Homo sapiens: one gene and its partner. The protein of the gene in region 2 purifies or fractionates together with the protein of the main gene of each other region. This does not show direct contact. Each region holds a gene or a part of one and is shown on either strand. Other genes may lie near its edges.

Region 1 (7,728 bases), on a different chromosome or scaffold from region 2:
TCAAGCGATTCTCCTGCCTCAGCCTCCTGAGTAGCTGGGATTACAGGCACCCGCCACCACGCCCGGCTAATTTTTGTATTTTCAGTAGAGACGGGGTTTCACCATGTTGGTCAGGCTGCTCTTGAAATCCTGACCTCGTGATCCGCCTGCCTTGTCCTCCCAAAGTGCTGGGATTACAGGCGTGAGCCACGGTGCCCAGCCCACTTTTCCTCTTTTTTCAAAAATACACAAATTACGTTCCCTGTTCTGCATCCTGCGTTTTCACTTCCACGACGTGCAGCAGCCCCTCCATATCAGCACCTAAAAGTCTCCTGGTGGCCGGCCGTGGTGGCTCACACCTGTGATCCCAGCACTGTGGGAGGCCGAGGCGGGCAGATCACTTGAGGTCAGGAGTTCGAGACCAGCCTGGCCAACATGCTGAAACCTCATCTCTACAAAAAGTACAATAATTAGCCGGGCATGGTGGCATGTGCCTGTAATCCCAGCTACTCTGGAGGCTGAGGCAGGAGAATCGGTTGAACCCGGGAGGCAGAGGTTGCAGTGAGTGGAGATCTCACCACTGCACTCCAGCCTGAGTGACAGATTGAGACTCTGTCTCAAAAAAAAAAAAAAAAAAAGAAGCCTCCTTGTGAGCAGCAGGTCCTACGGTGGCCACTGCTTCCTTGGTGATGCTCTCTGGGTTACGGCCTCCACAGCCAGCCCAAAAGTGGCTTCTGCAAGTCGTGATGAGAGTGTCTGTTGATGTGCTGGGCCCTGCTGGACACTGCGCTAAGCACTTCCTGTGCTGCACGGAATCCTCACACCTTGCCAGGACGGGTCCTTCTTTTTTATTGAGGTAAAATTTACAGGCCGGGCACGGTGGCTCACGCCTGTAATCGCAGCACTTTGGAAGTCCGAGGTGGGGGGATCACGAGGTCAGGAGTTCGAGACCAGCCTGGCCAACATGATGAAACCCCATCTCTACTAAAAATAGAAAAGAAATTAGCCAGGCGTGGTGGTGCGTGCCTGTAGTCCCAGCTACTGGGGAGGCTGAGGCAGGAGAATCACTTGAACCTGGGAGGCAGAGGTTTCAGCGAGCCGAGATCGCGCCACTGCACACCAGCCCAGGTGACAGTGAGTCTTTGTCTCAAAAAAAAAAAAAAATTTTACGATAAAATGCATCAATCTTAAGGGTTGAGAATGACAAGTTTAGGTGACTGTACACAGCTGACCATCACCCGTCACACAGAACATCCCGTCACACGGAACATCTCACCTGTCACACAGAACATCCCTTCACCCCTCACACGGAACATCCTGTCACCTGCTGACACGGAACATCCGATCACCCGTCACACGGAACATCCCATCACACAGAACATCCCATCACTTGTCACATCTCACCCATGACACGGAACATCCCGTCAGCCATCACATCTCACCCGTCACACAGAACATCCCTTCACCCATCACACGGAACATCCCATCACCCATCACATCTCACCCGTCACATGGAACATCCCTTCACCCATCACATGGAACATCCCGTCATCTGCTCACATGGAACATCCCATCACCCATCACACGGAACATCCCATCACCCATCACACAGAACATCTCACCCATCACACGGAACATCCCGTCACCCGCTGACACGGAACATCTCACCCGTCACACGGAACATCCCACACCCATCACACGGAACATCTCACCCATCACACGGAACATCCCGTCACCTGCTGACACGGAACATCTCACCCATCACACGGAACATCCCGTCACCCGCTGACACAGAACATCTCACCCGTCACATGGAACATCCCGTCACCCGTCACACGGAACATCCCATCACACGGAACATCTCACCCATCACACGGAACATCCTGTCACCCGCTGACACGGAACATCTCACCCGTCACACGGAACATCCCATCACCTGCAGACACGGAACATCTCACCCATCACACAGAACATCCCGTCACCCGCTGACACAGAACATCTCACCCGTCACACGGAACATCCCGTCACCCGCTGACACAGAACATCTCACCCGTCACACGGAACATCCCGTCACCCGCTGACACGGAACATCTCCCCCATCACACGGAACATCCCATCACCTGCAGACACAGAACATCTCACCCATCACACGGAACATCCCGTCACCCGCTGACACAGAACATCTCACCCGTCACACGGAACATCCCATCACCCGTCACACGGAACATCCCATCACCCGTCACATGGAACATCCCATCACCCGTCACACGGAACATCCCATCACCCATCACACAGAACATCTCACCCATCACACGGAACATCTCACCCATCACACGGAACATCCCGTCACCCGCTGACACAGAACATCTCACCCGTCACACGGAACATCCCATCACCCGTCACATGGAACATCCCATCACCCATCACACGGAACATCTCACCCATCACACGGAACATCCCGTCACCCGCTGACACGGAACATCTCACCTGTCACACGGAACATCCCATCACCCGTCACATGGAACATCCCATCACCCATCACACGGAACATCTCACCTGTCACACGGAACATCCCGTCACCCGCTGACACAGAACATCTCACCCATCACACGGAACATCCCATCACCCGCTGACACAGAACATCTCACCCGTCACACGGAACATCCCGTCACCTGTAACACGGAACATCCCGTCACCCATCACACGGAACATCCCATCACCCGTCACACGGAACATGCCATCACCCGTCACACGGAACATCCCATCACCCGTCACATGGAACATCTCACCCATCACACGGAACATCCCGTCACCCGCTGACATGGAACATCTCACCCATCACACGGAACATCCCATCACCTGTCACACGGAACATCCCGTCACCCGTCACACGGAACATCCCGTAACCCATCACATGGAACATCCCGTCACCTGTCACACGGAACATCCCATCACCCGTCACATGGAACATCTCACCAATCACACAGAACATCTCACCCATCACATGGAACATCCCGTCACCCGTCACACGGAACATTCCGTCTCCCGCTGACACGGAATATCTGATCACCCATCACATGGAACATCCCATCACCCACTCACACGGAACATCCGATCACCCGTCACACGGAACATCCTGTCACCAGTCACACAGAACATCCCGTCACCCATCACACGGAACATCCCATCACCCGTCACACGGAACATCCCGTCACCCATCACACGGAACATCCCGTCACCCGCAGCTGCCCCTGCCCCTTTGTGGCCAGCTCCCCGCCTGGTTCGTCTCTTCTGGAATTCCACGTCCATGAATCACAGCGCGTGTTCTCCCTGCTGTGGAATTCTTTTACCCAACATAATGTCTGCGTGACTCATCCCCCTGCAGCCTCGGTCGGAGCTGGCGTGCCATCGATCCTGTTGTCCTCCCCATTTTTTAGATAAGGAAACTGAGAGTTAGGGAGGGCACAGATGGAAGAGGATGGCACGGACACAGAAATATGGACATGCTTTTTTTGTTTTTTTGAGTTGGGTTCTCACTCTGCCGCCCAGGCTGGAGTGCAGTGGGACAGTCACAGCTCACTGCAGCCTCAACGGCCTGTGCTCAAGCAATCCTCTCACCTCAGCCTCCTGAGTAGCTGGGACTACAGGTGTACGCCACCAGACCTGGCTACGTTTTGCATTTTTTGAAGAGACAGGGGTCTCACCATGTTGCCCCAACTGGTCTTGAACTCCCGGGCTCACCGATCCACCCACCCTGGGCTCCCAAAATGTTGGGATTATAGGCATGAGCCACTGTGTCTGGCCTGGACACCTTTCTATGTACACACAGGTGCACATGTATGTCATAATCCGTGCAGGACATCCTATGCCTGTTCACATAAGCACACACACAGGGTCCGTGTGGACACCTGCGTGCAGATATGAATGTGTGTGTGAGCACGTGTGCTGTGGATATGTGCAAACTTCCAGCAATGAGGAGGCCCCTCGTGGGTTCCTGCTCTGTGGCCACCCAGCTGACCTGCAGGGCACCACGGTCAAGGGAGAAGCTACTGGCATCCAGTCCCTGTGCTGTGGCTTTGAGCCTGACCTGACCTCTGACCCCTGACTTCTGCCTCAACTGTTTCCTCATGTGATTCAAGTAAACAGTAACTCAGCCCAGAGCCAGGGATCCAGGAAGTGCTTATTAAACGCTGTTGGCACAAATCAGCGATCTCGTATTTCCTGGTAGGGGAATCTGTTGTGTTAGCCTGAGCCCGTTTCTCTCCTAAGGACCTGCTCTCCTGCCAGAAAGGGGAGGCCACTCCTTTCCTGCGCCCTCCCTGGAAGCAAACCAGGCCGGCAGGCGAGTCCCAGGTGTGAGGCAGAGGCCCTGGCTCAGGAGCCCCAGAAGGAAACCTTTGAATCAGGGAATCTTGGGGGGCCTGGCCCGAGGCTCCCCCTCCCAGCACCCAGGACCCCTTTGCACCCCTAAGAGAGCCTTCCCACCCCTTAACCTGACTTGACTTCCCCAGCCCTGACCTGGGATCTGCTTTCTCTTCTGTGTGGAAAGTGCCGCATGCTCAGAAGCTGCTGGCCAGGCCGGCCCTGGTTGGGGGTGGAGGGACTGCCCCTCTCTGCTTTGTATTCAACCTACCTCATTGTGACCTCCCAGCATCCGCCAGGCAGTAGCAGGTGTGAGGGCAGGTGGGAAGCACACACCTGCTACCTGGTGGGCCATTCGATGGTTGCTGAGATCACTTACGTGTGAGGAGATGACGGCCACCCCGCTTGGCCGGGGTCATCACCATCTCCTTTCGGACACGGAGCCTGGGAGGGCCGTGTGCCCCCGTCCTGCTCCTCACTGAGGAGATGACCTGGCTGCAGGGGCCTGGGCCTGTCATCCGCCACCCACCCCAGGTGGGCTCATAGCCGATGGGGCGGAAGTCCAGCAGGGCCTGGTGAGGAGGAGGAGGCCCCGGCTGCATGAGGAGGTCCCCAGGGTCTAAGCCCCAGTCCACTTCGAACAATCAACTCTGCTCCTTGGCACCTTCGAAGAGGAGTGGGCGGTGGGGTCCTGGGCCGGCACCTCGCTCACACCCTTTCTGCCGCCCGTGGCTACGTGGACATGCTGGGCGTGAGGGTCCGGGGCCGTTTGAGCTGCCTCGCCTCTGCTTCTGCGGGTTCTCACCTGGGCCTGGAGAGGGTCAGGGCAGCCCTGCTTACCTGTGGAGGGGCGTCCGCCACACCTGTGCAGGTGCAGGCCAGCTGGGCTGTGAGCTGCTTCCTGGCTTCCACCTGAGCCTGTTTCCTCACCTGGTAAATAGGTATGATGACCTCTGCCTCCCCTGGGCGACTGCTGGCGCCGTGAGGTGGTGGACGTGCAGGGGTGGCCACACGCAGGGATGGCAGGTGCTTGAGAGCAGCCACAAAGGGGGCGCGGGCCCTGGGCAGTGAAGCTCATGGTGGGGGATGGGGAGACAGGACAGGCCTGAGAGTCCGGGTGAGGGCGCGGTGGGGTCTCCAGGGTCAGGAGCCGTCCCCGCCTGCCCCTCCCTGCCTGACGCCTCTGACTTACAGATTGTGGCCCAGAAGAAGGTGACCCGCCCGCTGCTGCTCAAGTTTGGCAGGAACGCTGGCAAGTCCACCATCACGGTGAGACCCGGGCGCACCCCTGCAGCCTGCAGGCCCTGCTGCTGTGGCTCCGAGGGGTGTTGTGGGCGGAAGATGGGCAGCAGCGTGCCGTCCAGGGAGGGTCTGCAGGAGCCGGCAGCTACACAGCCCCGGGGGTACACAGACACCTCCTCTCAGGCCCCGCTGGGTGGGGTCAGCCAGCCTGGGGCCTCTGGTCCCCCACGGTGGGGTCAGGCCCCACCTGGCCAAGCCTGGAGCCCGGGCGTCCCCCTGCCAGGTGATCGCCGAGGACATCTCGGGGAACAACGGCTACGTGGAGCTCTCCTTCCGGGCCAGGAAGCTGGACGACAAGGTGAGTGCAGGTGCCGGGCACGCCTGGCTCAGGCTGAGGTCCGGGAACCGGTTCGAAAACCCGGTCCCTGCCCAGCGCTGACCTCGCGTGGCTATGTCCCGTGTGAGACGTGTGCGGAGTGTGCCTGGGGCTGGGCGTGCTGCCGTCACGGTCGCCATCATCACTGTCACCGCCATTAGCTCTCCCGCCCCTCCTGGCAGCTGGGCTGGGGCTGGGGCAGCTCCCTCCTGTGGGGACCACTCATGACCCTGCTCAGGGATGGGGAAATAGGCCCAGCACCCCCGAGGCCACTGTCGTGACAGGAGGAACTGGAACAGCGCGCGGTTCTGCGGGCTCGTCACGTGGGTGGGCAGAACAGGGTCCAACCCCGCCATGTAGGGCGTCTCCCTGGAGGGGCTGAGTCGCAGGGTGTGTAGGGCAAGTCCGTGGAGGGCTGAGTCGCAGGGTGTGCAGGGTGACTCCATGGAGGGCTGAGTTGCCCGCCGTGGTCAGATCCCTGGGGGCGGGAGGGAGGGACGAGATGCTGTCGGCGGGGACTGGCTGCCTCGTTTTGTGCCTGAGGAATTAGCGGCTGGTGGCATGAAGTGAGCCCTGGGAAACGACAAAGCCAGCTCCCATCCAAAGCCCGATCTCACAGTGCCTGGCCCAGCAGCCCTTGTGCCTCTCCCCAGGACCTCTTCAGCAAGTCCGACCCCTTCCTGGAGCTCTACAGGGTCAACGACGACCAGGGCTTGCAGCTGGTGTACAGGACGGAGGTGAGCGGCCGGGGATGGGAACACAGGGAGGGGAAGGGGCTGTCCCCAGCCCTCACGCATCTCTGGCCACATGGGAGGAGCTCCCAGCCTCCAACAGGGAGCTGTGGGCGCAGGGCTTTGGTGGCTGTGGCTATGGCCAGAATCCAACAGGGAGCCGCAGGCGCAGGGCCCTGGGGGCCGTGGCTGTGGCCAGAATCCAGCAGGCTTGTGTAGTCGTGGCTGTGATTATTTTTAGACCTACCTTCCACTTCCTGCAGGTGAAATGGGATTTCAGCGACGGCAGGGAGAGAGTGCTTTCTTTTGAGAGAAATTAACTTGAGTGAAAATGAATCTATTTAAGGAAGAGAGCAGCGCAGGTGGCTCAGAGGTGGCAGAAGTTACGAAGGTGGAGGCACAGGGCTCGGAAATGTGTCTCCCGGGTCCTCACATGGCTTCGTGCAGGGAGTGGGTGCCAGCCCCAGCTCAGGGCCCCGGCGCTGTCTGGGGTGATGCAGGGGCAGGGCCAGCTGTGCCCGCCTCACAGCTGCTCTTCCACCCAGGTCTCTATCCCCCCCAAGGATCCCAGGGCCCTGGGCCTCCCCTGAGCCAGCCCCTCCCGGCCCACAGGTGGTGAAGAACAACCTGAACCCGGTGTGGGAGGCCTTCAAAGTCTCTCTGAGTTCCCTCTGCAGCTGCGAGGAGACAAGGCCTCTAAAGGTGGGGGACGGGATGGACCAAGGGGGCAGTGAGGGGGTGGCCTGGATGTGGGCTGCGATGGAGACACCTGGGCTCGGGTGGGAGGGTCCTGGGGCCCCCAGACAGCAGTGCTGAGGAGGACTGGGCTCCCCAGTGCCTGGTCTGGGATTACGACTCTCGAGGAAAGCACGACTTCATCGGAGAATTCTCTACCACCTTCGAGGAGATGCAGAAGGCCTTTGAGGAGGGGCAGGTGAGCAGGACGGGGTAGGGGGTCCTCCAGGGAGGGTCAGGTGGGGGTGGAGGGGGGCCTTCGGGGAGGGGTAGGTGAGCAGGACTGGGGGGGTACCTCCAGGA
Region 2 (7,728 bases):
AGGGCATGAGGCAGAGGCACATGGGCTTAGACCCTGTGCTTCTCTCTCCACCCATTCACAAACAGAAATATTATCAGACTGTAGCCACTTTTCCCACAAACCTTGGAGGGAGAAAGGGAGGAAGCAGCTATAAAGCCTTTGCTTCTCTCCGTAGCAGCCTTTCTCTCTTCCCTGCCACACACCCATAGAGGTGATTTAGGGAAAAGCCACATCCTGACTCAAGAAGATACAGGGCCTGGCTAGGCACAGATGAGGACACATGGATGGTGCATGAGGCTGGTATATGCTCCTGATGATTGAAGCTGCAGTCTAGAACCCAGGATTATGGAAGAGGGTTTTGAAGAGTTCACAGCATTCATTGGTTGGAGTCATAGTTCTGGACTTAGAAACTGAAATCCTCTCCTCCTATCCCAGCTCTGTCACTGACCCATCTGTCACTGATCCATCTGTGTGCTTGAGCAAGTCCTTCTTACTCTGGGCTTCAGTTATCTCTTTTATAAAATGTGGAAGATGAATCTTCTGATCTCAGAAGTGGCTTCCCAAATGCACTGAATACACAGAAAGGGAAATCTATGCTTGGACTTGACAACAATGTGGGCTCCACAAGTGGGACAAAGAACAACATGTGGGCTCCATTGCTCATATGGTAGCTTTGGGCAAAGATACTGCCCACTGGGACTACTTTTCCTTCAAAGACTCAGCACATGAATCCATATAGCTACAGAGCTGGAGTAGAAAAGGGCAGGACAACCATCCTTCCCAACATACATTGTCTTCCAGTGATGCTTAAACAGAGAGGAGCATGTGCTGGAAACCTCGCACAGAGCCTGGCACATCAGTGTCTTTGCTAGTGAATCGTCATGCTATGGGAGAATCCTGTCTCCTAAAATGTAGAAGAGGAGTTGGGAAATGGTGTGGTGAATGTGGTTCTCATAGGCCTGATCCACCTGTAGGTAGGTATTCCAACTTCTTCAGTTTGCTTTTGTCTTTTCTCTGAAGCCGCTCTTTTAAGTAAGAAGACATACATTGGGTTTCTAGGGAGGGACCAAAGGTCATATTCTAGATGCACTTAGGGCAATATAATAATTCTAAAGTTGTTGAGGAAGCCAGGGGTATGTTGGCAGTGGCATGAGTGGTATTGTCTTTGAGTTTGGTGCTGCAATCAGTGCTGACATTGCAGACATCCCCCTCACCCCTACTCCATCACCCTCATTTTCTCCCACCTTACTTTAAACTGATTTTTTTTCTCAAACATCCAATTATCAAGCATGAGTCTTTGGATGGAAATAGTCTCCTCCAGCCTGGATGAAGACGGCAACACCCTCTTCTGACAGGGGAATGAATGCCTCCCCACCTGATATTTGACTGAAAGAAGTTTATTTCAGTTGCTTAAATAGTAGAACTTTGAAAATATATCATGGACTTCTTTCAACTTGTTACCACGGTCACAGAGTAGGGTAAACCAGTTATTCTGCTTTGCCTGGGGAGTAAGGGGTTTCCCAGGATATAGGCTTTCTGGGCTAAAACTGAGACAGTCCTGGGAAAACCAAACAATTGGTCACCCTGACGCTGAAGGGCTAGAATTTGTGTGAAGTCCCAACTCTATGAATGGGGACATTTGGCATCAAAAAGAACCCCAAGAGGCAGGTTTTATAGAAAAAAGGATCTGTAGGCTCTCTCTGGGATGGGTGGCTACCTTATTCAAGGTCAAGGTTACAAGCTATAAAGAGTCCATGGTACATTTAAAAATGTACACTTTTTAAATAACTGAGGTAAACCTCCTCCAAGCTTGGAATATAATCCAGGAGCAACATTGTGTAGACGAAAGAGCACTGGTCTAGAAGGCAAGAAATTTGGGCTCTACTCTTGGTTCTACCAATGGGACAGCCAGGAAAACCTGGGCTTCCTAGCCTGTTCTAAGCTTTTTCTCTCTAAATTGTAAAATAGGGATTTTTAAACTAGAAGAATTAACTCTGACGTTCCTTCAATTCCAACCAGCTGAGATTTGATGGTCCTTATACTTACAAAGGGCTTAGTTGATTGTTTTCCAGAGATAATTGAGAGGGATCCAGTAATGCCAAACTGCCCAGAAGAGAGAGAAATGATCAGTTCAGTTGTCTTGTGGAAATGTGCCCACCATGTCACTGTCAATCACTCAATCAAAAAGTGATGTTGGAAAACTTTTAGGGAGAGAACACTGCAGAAATCTTGTGGATCTATATTGCTAGATAGGCCTAATTCCCACCTGATATAAGAATGTCTATATTGACTTTGAATGACATGCAGATGCACAGAGGGGTTGGATTTGTTTTAGTGGAAATCACTAGGAACTGAGGAGGCCTGGAGAAAAGGTGTACCTGGGAAGGAGAAGAGTGTTACTAAATTACAGGGTTGAAAGAGAGGAGGTTGAGATGGACCAATGACTTGAATGGACAGAGAGATTGGAACAGCCAACAGAAGCACTCAGGAAAGAGGCTCTGATGGGACAAGGTGCAGAAACACATGGACTGGAAGTTATTGGTGTATGTTGCTTGAGTCAGAATGGGAGTCGAGGAAAGTGGGAAGAGCAGGCTCAGACGTGAAGTCTTTATCATAAAGCCCCAGAAATCAGTATTTAATCTCAGTGGTATTAAAGATCCAGCTGGCAGAGGAAGGGTATTCTGAGAAGCTGAAAAGTTGCTTAAGTGTGTGGCTTGGATATTGAATAATCACAGGCAAAGAGGGTCCAGTATGAGCTAACGCTAGCTTCTCTAAGGAGATGTGGGGCCCACAACCACTGGTTACAGGAGAAGTCAAGGACAAATTGTGCTCTGGGGCAGGACCAGGGCCTCCTTATGTGACTGCACAGTTTGTGTTCACACAGGGACTGTATCCACACAGAAGTGGTACCTTAGTATAGTTCATTTGCCCAGAATATTTGATTTTTATCCTTTGTACCAAATACTACGTGGAGAAGAAATAACCCTTTGTGGGAAGTGTGAGTCTGCCCTGGCCACTCTCTGAAAAATGGATCTACTGGGCCCTTTTTCATGAGCCATTAGGTGGAAGGCAGCAAAGAGAGTTTCTCTAGTGCTCAGGGTTACCTCTGGACACACAGCAAGCATGTCCCTGCCTCCCATGAATCTTACCCTTGTTAATCCAAATCTCTGCAAACCTGTGGCATCAACCAGTGGTGCTCGTTTTATTGTTTAAAAATGGCCTTCTCACTCTCTACCTGAAAAGTTGATTATTCTTACAATGGAGGGAATCCAATGGCCTCATCAAAGCCTCAAAGAGGGATATGGAAAATCATCCACTTTTCTAGAGGTATGCTGTAATGCCAGGTAAGAAATTCTGTGCTGGTATACCCATTGTATTACCATTCCCTCTTGCCCCCTGCTCTGCAGGAAGACAGATTAAGTCTCTCTGCTGCTCTTCTTGAATAGGGGAAATGTGACGTGGGGCAATGATAGAAGGAAAGTCGAGGCCTTGCCGCCTTTTGCCTCCTGGCCTCTTGGAGTCTGAGTCACTCCACGACTATGCACCTGGTTAGCATTTATAAAGCATGTCCCCTCTTAGAGTCCCCATTCTACTCACACACAGAGCTCCTAAAAATGGGTACCCAGACATCAAAGTGGTGGAAATTGCTGGATTGAAGTGGGAGGGGTAGGGAGCAAAAACCAAGATGGCCCCCAGACTTGAAATCAACAGGCAACACAGGATCTGGACAGTCTACAAGAGAGAAGACAGGAAATCTAGACTGCACTTCAAACAGATAAAAGTGATTATTTGAATGCACACGGTAAAGTATAAAGAGTATAAAATACATTATAATTTGTTATATTAAAGAGGAAAAATGTTACAAGGAGCCAATCGATATGCTTCTAGAGAAAGTCATGTATAGCTAACCTCTTCTTTTCTGATAGGATTATTAAACCAGCAAATCGGAAAGTGATCATACACACATTTTAACTTTTTTTGAAAAAGATACTTGACAGTTTTTAAATTTATTTTCTTGAAAAGTAGATAAAAAAGTTGTCCAGTGAGGTGGAAATAGAGAGCAAACTTTTCACAGGAGTGTTAATGAAGAGATTTTTCAGTTGAAATTAGATAGAGCAGGTCATCTCTTCTGCTGTAATTCATCTTATTTTGTTCATCATTGGATTTTAATAATAATTATTTCGCAAGTGGAAGAACTGAAGTTTAGCTGTTAGCTTGCTCTAAAGCCCATGCTTTTGCTCATAGTTTAATGCATGTGCAATTGAAAGATGATGCAAACATAGGAGAAATAAAAAAAGAAGTCAACCATTCACATCATCAACAGTTATTGAATACCACAACAGGTATGTTGTGTGCCAGGCACGAGGGAATGAAGCAAATGAAAATCACTACCATTGGAGAGCTTATATGTGTACTATGTCTTGTCTGTAAAGGTACAGACAAGTTCCATGCAAGGCAGAATAGAGTTAAGAGCAAAGTAGTAGGACATGAGGCTTGTGAAGTACTGGAGGCATGGTACAAACTATGTAGGGATTTTTAGGCTATGTTTTACCAACTTTGCTTTTCATTTTGAGCAAAAAAGGAATCCCACTGGATAATTTTGAGCCAGGAGAATACATGATCTAACTTTCATTTTTAAAAGAGTACCCTACCTGCTGTACTAAGAATAGATTGTAAAGAAACAGGGCAGGGAGATCCATCTAAATAGGCAGTGAATAGGACCTGGGTATTATAAGAGGGTATTCAAAACCACATGGAGATTAAAGTTCTGGATATGAGGGATGATGATCTGGGACACTTGGATGTCTTATAGTTACTCATATGAACGGGGAAAAATGGGTCATGAGATTAGTCTTGATCGTCTCATCTCAAAATATTTGAAAAATAAGCTCAAAGTTAATTTAATCATATTGAGTAAAATCCATATGGTTAAATAGAAAATTTTTACTGTACTAATGACAAAATAAGAAAGACTAATTTGTGGCTGGGCACAGTGGCTCATGCCTGTAATCCCAGCACTTTGGGAGGCCAAGGCGGGCAGATCACAAGGTCAGGAGTTCAAGACCAGCCTGGCCAGTATGGTGAAACCCCATCTCTACTAAGAATACAAAAATTAGCCGGGCGTGGTGGCGTGCACCCATAGTCCCAGCTACTCGGGAGGCTGAGGCAGAAGAATCACTTGAACCCAGGAGGCGGAGGTTGCAGTGAGCTGAGATCGTGCCACTGCACTCCATGCTGGGTGACAGAGGGAGATTCTGTCTCAAAATAAATAAATATATAAATAAATAAAATAAGAAAGACTAACCTGTTAATTGTGAAGCATGCTAGTGAAAAAGATCTAGTGGTTTTAGTTTCTAGAAACTGCTGCAGAGCTTTAAGAGTCTTCCCTTAAAGCTCCATTTCATGTCCTCATTAGCCTGGAGTCAGCCAGAAAAGAGTGAAAGAGTTTCCCAGACCCACTGTAGATCTGTAGTCTAGATACATTTACAAAGTATTTTCTCAGTATTCCCCTTATAATGAGGTGGACTTACCCCAAGAACGGTGGTTTCTGTTGGCAGCCCGTTCTGCAGGTAATCTTCGTTTTGGTACATGTGTCCAGGTTTCTCTCTTTGAGGGATAGTGATGCCCTTTGGTGTAAAGCTGTGAGAAACCCCCATGGTTTGGGATTGTAATAGCATGATGCTGATGATGCTGGAAGAGGCATCAAAACTCAGTTACTTCCCAAGGTTTGACTTACAGACATAAACTTCCCAGGGACCATACTTTGTAGGAACTTAAGAAGGTATTTGCCATTATTCCAAGGCTGGTTGTCCTTCAGAAACAAAACATGGGGATCAGTGGAGCATTGGAAAGTGGGCATGCTGGGCACAGTTCATCCATTGTGGTCAAGAAGCATGTCACTGGGAGAGTACTGTACACATTTTGAGGGGTCCCACAATTGAGAGGTGAGCAAATCACATAGAACTTGCTTTGTAGCCCTGAATGTGTCCATCTCCCTCTCCCTCCAGTGACCTCTGCTTCCAGCTTCCCTTCCCTATCTCCTGTATCTCTGCTTCACTTGTGCTACCTTCTCACACCACATCTTCCAGGATTACACTTTTATGCTACACCTGCACTGATCAGTCTTCTACTCCAGTCTTCATTTTGTCTTCGTAAAAATGTTGAGGATGAATGCTGTTCCACTTTCCTTTCCTATAGCGAGATGGCCTGTCCCATCCGGAATCTTCCTCCTTGCTTATATTGGCTTCGTAATTAGTAATGTAAACATTTACTTAACTCCTGCTGAATTCCAAGCATTAGACCATTGCAGCTCTAATCCTTATAACAACCCTGTAACTTACATGTTATTAAATCAATTTTATACATTAGAAACCTGGGGCTAATAAGCTCAAGTGACTTTTATTGAATGAAATAGTCACATAAAGTACTTAGCCTGGCACTTAGAATGTGTTCAATATATGGTAGCAAATATTAACAGCCTGTGTTTACATGACTGGATTGAGACTTGTCTGGCTCAGACGCTTGTGATATTTTTTTCTCTATGCCATGTTAATTCTCCTCCTCTTCCTCTTCCTTCCTTTCTTCCTTCCTAACATTTCCAGTTCCCTTGTAGATTCCAGGAGCAAGTTGTCTGCCACCACTAACTCAGCAGCATTGCTGGGCCTCTGTGGTGTCAGCAACAAGGCTCAGCACCTGAAATGTTGCCCAGATTTGTTTTCAGCTCAACATTCTCCCTACTGAAGGCCAGAGTTTAGTTAAAGGCTTGTCATCCTTGAAAGGTGCCACAGCTCTGCTGCCTGACATTTTGCCTCAATGTGTTGGTGCTTTAGGAATGGTTCTGGCCTCTCTTGGGTGGAGTGAAGAACATGTAAAAATTGGAAATGACACCTAGAATCTCTTCCTAGTGAGGGAGATGGAAAAGTGCACTGGGATGGGAGTCCAATGCCTAGGCATCTAGTTGCACATCTGACCATATGTCTTGGAGTCCAGTCGTGTGTTCAGATCCCATATCCACCAGTTACTGCTAAACTCACCCTGGGCAAGGTATTTTCACCACTTCATAGGTTTGTGGTACAGGTTGGATAAGATGACACATATAATGGACTCAGCATAGGGGGAGGCATGTGATAAACTCCCAAAACATATCAGTTTTATCTAATATTCATTGGAAGCCCAGTTCTGATATTGATGAGCTGGCCGTAGGCAGGATACTTTCCCTCATTCATCCCCAGTTTCCTTATCTGTAAAATAAGGATAATGACACTATCCTGAAGGACTCTTGTGAGGATTTGAATGACACACGTGAGTGTCTTTTGTTGTAACTCTCTGAGTTTTATCAGGTGTTCCATAATAGTCGATCCATGTTTGGACCTCCATTTTATTTCTACTCCTAGATCTGTGCCTTAGTCTAGTTTCTCATGCTCTCCGGGCATGAGATACTTTATCTGAAGAATTATTAAACCTAAAGTTCTCTTTGTTTAAGGAGATAGTTTTCATTTCTTGGAATTTTGAAATCTGGGTAGAAGTGTGGGTGAGGTTACATGTCCTATGAGGGGAATAATGTTGAAGCTGAATCCCTGCAGTGGAGTCAGGGTGAGCCTTCCAGCACATCTTTAAAGCCAGAGAAGGAGAAAAAGTGTCAGGCTTAGAGAAATTCTAGGTTCCAGAATCAAACAGTAGTTCATGATAAAATGATAATCATTGCTAACATTGATTGGGCACGTACTATGAATGTGGCATTCTATTAAG

The links. The genes of interacting proteins can lie anywhere in the genome.
Region 1: the proteins of MS4A7 (region 2) and CPNE7 purify together in Homo sapiens (affinity purification with mass spectrometry; 2 studies listed by BioGRID and IntAct, with this or other methods). This does not show direct contact.

Annotation. Positions count from the first base shown.
Region 1 is NC_000016.10:89,578,162-89,585,889, forward strand, and holds part of CPNE7 (copine-7), read left to right. Parts: intron 1-695; coding exon of another isoform or gene 696-835; intron 836-5,282; coding exon of another isoform or gene 5,283-5,367; intron 5,368-5,535; coding exon 5,536-5,610; intron 5,611-5,866; coding exon 5,867-5,941; intron 5,942-6,612; coding exon 6,613-6,696; intron 6,697-7,302; coding exon 7,303-7,392; intron 7,393-7,525; coding exon 7,526-7,624; intron 7,625-7,728. UniProt on the Homo sapiens protein: Calcium-dependent phospholipid-binding protein that may play a role in calcium-mediated intracellular processes.
Region 2 is NC_000011.10:60,381,071-60,388,798, reverse strand, and holds part of MS4A7 (membrane-spanning 4-domains subfamily A member 7), read right to left. Parts: intron 5,671-7,728; 5' UTR 5,658-5,670; coding exon 5,511-5,657; intron 3,712-5,510; coding exon 3,577-3,711; intron 2,083-3,576; coding exon 2,026-2,082; intron 1-2,025. UniProt on the Homo sapiens protein: May be involved in signal transduction as a component of a multimeric receptor complex.